Linked DNA regions of Homo sapiens. The protein of the gene in region 1 purifies or fractionates together with the protein of each later gene. This does not show direct contact. Each region holds a gene or a part of one and is shown on either strand. Other genes may lie near its edges. The genes, in order: SCP2D1 and EHD3.

Region 1 (2,697 bases):
GCTTTAACCAAGTGATCAAGGACAACATCGGCAGAAATGGGACATAACATCATGGACGCCTGCTATGGCACAGTGGGAAGAGCACAGGTCACCTCTGTGGCATCCTTGTCCCAAATGCATAACCTCCACCTAACCAGGAGAAAGCATCAGGCAGTCCTCAAAGGAGGGACATTTTTGGGAATAACTGGCCAGTATTCAAGTGTCAAGGTAACGATAGACAAAGATTGAAGAGCTGCCCCAGACTGCAAGGCACTAGGGAGACCTGCAACCAAATAGATATGGTCTCACATGGTCTGTAGATTAGTTAGTAGTCATGAACCAATGTGAATTTCTCAGATTAGATCACTGTACTGTGATTATATAAGATGTTAGTTTTGGGGAAAGCTGGGAGAAGGTTAAACAGGTACTATTTTTGCAAACTTTTTATAAGACTGAAATTATTTCAGAATAAAAAGTAAAGAAATAAACAGGTGGACTTTGGAGTCATTCTGCCTCTCCTCAAATCTGGCTACACTACTTACTAACTGTGTGACATTGGGCAAGTTACTTCATTTCTCCCCTCAGTTTCCTTATATGTAAAATGGGGATAAAAAGAATACCTATCTGGGAGGCCGAGGTAGGTGGATCACTTTAGCCCAGGAGTTTGAGACCAACCTGGGCAGCATGGTGAAACCCCATTTCTACAAAAAGTACAAAGATTAGCCAGGTGTGGTGGCACACGCCGTATTCCCAGCTACTTGGGAGACTGAGGTGGGAGGATCAAATGAGCCCAGGAGGCAGAGGCTGCTGTGAGCAGAGATCGCGCCACTGTACTCCAGCCTGGGTGACAGAGCAAGACCTTGTCTCAAAAAAAAAAAAAAAAAAGAAAAAATACCTATCATAGAGGGTTGTAATGAGAGTTAAATGTGTTAATACATGTGTAGTACTTAGAACTCTGCACCTTGGCCCAGAGCAAGGGCTATACTATTACGTGTAATTATCAGAGGAGACTGGCAGCATCTTCTGATCTTAGGGACATTTAATCTCTCTGTGTGTGTCTCACTGTGCTTCTGGAAAGTTTCTGATGCAGGCTCCTGGACTGATTCCTTCTCCAATCAATTACTCTGGCCTAAAAGCATTTCCCTTTCTACCAGCAGCCAGATAAAGCCAAATTCAGCACTAGGATCTGTAGTATTAACTTAAGTATTACCCACTTAATGGGACTTAAGTGTTACCTAGTTTTAGAGGAATAAGAATAACTTCTGTCTCACGTTGGGTTTCACTGAGGAGATGTCTGCATTGGAAAGACAGAGCTCATGTCACTAAAGAAGCTTCTGGGGCCAGTTTCCCTTAACCCCATTGCAGCCTGCAGACCTTTTGGGCTTGCAGGACCAACATCCCTGATTGGTTTGGGAGGGGCGTGTGTGTGTGGATCTGCCTCACAATGGCCTGTCTGAGCCCTTATCTGAGGTCACACGTTATCATTTGTTTGGCCAATAAGACTGTAGCACACACACCAGCTTCAGTCCCCACTTGGCCTTACCTTTGATGTCACAATCTGACCTGTGGGTATTAATCTGGTCACAGCTGCTCACAGACTAGATGGCAAGGTCCAGGGGACTAGCACAGGAAGATGTGGAAGAGAAGTGACCATCAACCCAAGATCAAAGCAGAGGATGGACCTCTGGTGGGCCAGTTCGAGGTTCTGGGTTCAGTTCCAGAACCTGCCATGCCACATCCTCTAGAGCTGTCAGAATTTGAGAGCTTCCCAGTGTTTCAGGACATTAGGCTTCACATCAGGGAAGTGGGAGCTCAATTGGTCAAGAAAGTCAATGCCGTCTTTCAGCTGGACATCACCAAAAATGGGAAGACCATTTTGCGGTGGACCATTGATCTGAAGAATGGTTCTGGGGACATGTATCCGGGACCTGCCAGGCTCCCAGCAGACACTGTCTTTACAATCCCGGAGTCTGTCTTTATGGAGCTGGTTTTGGGCAAAATGAACCCGCAGAAGGCTTTCCTTGCCGGAAAGTTCAAAGTGAGTGGCAAGGTTCTGCTTAGCTGGAAGCTGGAAAGGGTTTTCAAAGACTGGGCTAAATTTTAAGCATGCAAAAATACCAAGGAAGAACTTCTCTTCGATGATAATGTCGAGTGGAAATCATGCTTAATCTGAAGATTAAAGTAAAAAGTATCCAATATTTTTACTCAAATTCTTCCTATTCAAGTTTAATTGATTTTCCTGTTGATGGGTAAATTTTCAGGGAGGGTTCTGAAGCAGTAAAAAGCGTTGTAGTGCATCAATTAGAATCTTTGTCTTTTTCTCTTTTTTTAGCTCCATTTATGCCCTTTATGCTCCATTTATGCCAGGGTGAGAGCCACGTGTAAAGAAATGGGTGATTATGATCATTGGAATTAAATACTCCAATGATTGTGTTCTTGAGACATTTTTCCTTTTCTAAAAAAGTTTGATGTTTTGGGGAAAGAAGTGATAACTATCATTGTGCAGGTGTGCATTCTGCATGGTAACTTGATTCCATGAGGAAACTTTACTATGAGACTGTGGGGTGCTAAGGGAATGGGGCACCACAGGTCTGTGGGTGGAACCCAGGCAATAGAGGGGATGGTGCTGTTGGTGTATTATAATTTCTGATGGTTTCAATTCCAAGAAACTTGAAGGGCTTGGGAGGTGTTCTAGGCCAGTGGTTCTTAACTGGAGCA
Region 2 (2,730 bases), on another chromosome or scaffold:
CCTATGATGTTTAGATGTTCATACTTGACTCACATTTACCCAGCCCCTCCTGCGTACCAGGAGCTGTGTTAGGCACTTTATATACATTATTCTATGTGGCCCTCACTGATGCCCCAGGGAAGTATGCATTAGCCTTCCCATTTTGCAGTTGAGGAGGCTGAGTAGCCTCAGAAGGGTTTAGGCGACCTTCTGAAACTCACAGAAGTCACGTGATGGAGAGAGGATTCAAAGCCAGGGCCTCAGACCCTCACACACTTGTCTGTGCTATGATGTATGCAGGATCCCAGCATTGATACCCAATGACAAACTATGGAGAACAAGCAAAGTATGCAGGCCCCCTGCAGCCTCCCAGGACAGGCTGGCAAGGGAGGAGGGCCGGCCAGCATTTGGTGGCCCATCAGTCTGGCCATCTGTCACGTCACAGAAGCAAACCGTGCCTTCTGGCTCTGCGCCCCATATTCCCAGCATCATAGACATCCAACAGCACCAGCAGGAGAGTGGGCTAGCCTGCTGGATGCTGTTCGTGCCTGTCCCTGCTCTGCCTCCCACCCAGTTGCCTGAATCATCCCAGCTCAGATGCAGCCACTGTCTCTTGTCAAGTGGGACCTCATACTATTCTCAGAAGGCTAACTTGAGAGGTTTGGGGCCTTGTTCCCCAGAGGGTCCCCAGGGACTCTGCAGTGTCCTTGGCAAATCCCCACTGTACTCAATGCCCTACATTCTCTTCTGTGGTCTCTCCCCTGGCTTGCTTCATGGCCACTGAACCAATCACTTTGTATGCTATGCTCCTACTGTGATGGAAAACAAAATGAGTATAACTTATTTTATATCCATATTCAGACTATATAGAGAATATTCTATGCATCTATGACGTGCTTACTACTGCAGTGCATTTGTCATTAGTCTTCATGTTAATACAGTACATTTATTCTTTGGTACCTGCCTGGCCACAGAGCATCATTCAATGGAGGCTGAGGGAGAAGGGCTGGGTTCTTACTTGGAGTTCCTGGTGAAATCTTTGGCTGGAAAGGGCTCACTGGGGCCACCCAATGGCCAGCATCCACAACCAGCTTCCCAGTGGGCTGGAGTTTGTCTAGGCTCAGTGACCAACCCAGGCACAGCTGGTGGAGCCACCGCTCCCTGCTCCTCTGGAGTGAAGATGTTCCCTAAGCCCCTGGGCTTCCTTCTGCAAATACACATTTCTCTTTCACATGAAATGAAGGGCAGACAAAGGCCAGGCAAAGAGGTCTCACCTGCTCTGGAGAAAACCCTTGAGTGCCGAGTGCAGGTTAGGGACCATTTCTCAACTCCACACCTTTCTTCAAGCTGAAGGAGAAATGGGAAGGAAATAGCAGAGGTAGGTGAAGTTCCTGTCTTTTTATTTTATAGGAAAGGGAGATGTCTGTTATCCCCTTTCTTCACTGCCACTGGACACACATGCCACTTTCCTGCCCTTCTACATATGCTGCCTCTCTTCCCTCTCTCCATCTTGAAGTCTCCACCCAGGAGAGACCTGTGAGGTGTGGGAATTCCATGTTTGCACAGCTCCCATCTCCCTGGAAAGAGGAACTGATGTTTGAGGGGACAGATGTGGGTCACTTTCCCTGGCAGTGCCCTCTAGCCTTGCTGCCTTGGCTTTCTGACCCCTTCCAGGCTTCAGGGGCCTGGGAGATCTCATGCCTCAGCCCAGGAAACATTTAATAGGGAAAGCAGAGACATGTCATGTCAGCCCCACAGACAAGAATTTCTAGAGCACTTGTCCTGTTGTTCCTTGCCCCGACATTACTCAGTCTGGGCCATGGAATCCATCCAATAAACACAGCAACACCCTATGCTACTGACCAAGCAAAGCTTGCCCCTGGTACCAAAGAGCTAAATCATGACCAAAGTGTGACATGAATGTAACTGAAATGCGGGTTAGTTGCTCAATGTATGCAAAGTCCCACGGACAAGAGTAAAGTCTGATACCAATAAAGTGAATGTATTCCAAAGCTAGCTTGGAGGAGGGGCACACAACGTCCTGCCTTTCAATGTGCCGCTTCCCCTTTGGAGCAGAAAGCAGGCACTTTTATAAGGTAAGGGAGCAAGTGAGCAAGGGTCCGCCTGATAGCATGGTGCCTTATCTACTGGACAGTTGAGTCGGGCCTTCCTGGGCAAAAATAAATTTTAAAAGTGGCCAAGTAGGCATACTTTAGATATAACCTCCTAGTGAATGAAAGTCCTGAGGCAGCCCCTGGAGGGTGGGAGTTCCAAGGCAACCCCTGGAGGTGAAAGCTCAAGGAGGGCATGTTTTGGTCTGCAAATTGGCAGTCAATTCTGGAGGACTATTTTGGAGCAGAGAGATGAACTTGCCCTGTAGGGAATGTCTAGTGAAGGGGAGATGAAAGCTTATATTTGCATTTCCCTTTTTTTGAGACAGTCTCACTCTGTCGCACAGGCTGGAGTGTAGTGGCATGATCCCAGCTCACTGCCACCTCTGCCTCCCAGGTTCAAGCCATTCTTGTGCCTCAGCCTCCCAAGTAGCTGGGACTACAGGTACTCCACCACCACGCCTGGCTAATTTTTTTTTTTTTTTTTTACTTTTAGTGAAAACAGGGTTTCACCATGTTGGCCAGGCTGGTCTTGAATTTCTGACCTCAAGTGATCTGTCCACCTCAGCCTCCCAAAGTGCTGGGATTACAGGCATAGGCGAGAGCCACTGCGCCAGGCCTATATTTGCATTTCTAAAGG

Evidence for each region.
Region 2: the proteins of SCP2D1 (region 1) and EHD3 purify together in Homo sapiens (affinity purification with mass spectrometry; one large-scale study listed by BioGRID and IntAct). This does not show direct contact.

The regions. Positions count from the first base shown.
Region 1 is NC_000020.11:18,812,204-18,814,900, forward strand, and holds SCP2D1 (SCP2 sterol-binding domain-containing protein 1), read left to right. Parts: upstream 1-1,579; 5' UTR 1,580-1,612; coding exon 1,613-2,083; 3' UTR 2,084-2,175; downstream 2,176-2,697.
Region 2 is NC_000002.12:31,267,457-31,270,186, forward strand, and holds the end of EHD3 (EH domain-containing protein 3), read left to right. Parts: 3' UTR 1-1,995; downstream 1,996-2,730. UniProt on the Homo sapiens protein: ATP- and membrane-binding protein that controls membrane reorganization/tubulation upon ATP hydrolysis. In vitro causes tubulation of endocytic membranes. Binding to phosphatidic acid induces its membrane tubulation activity.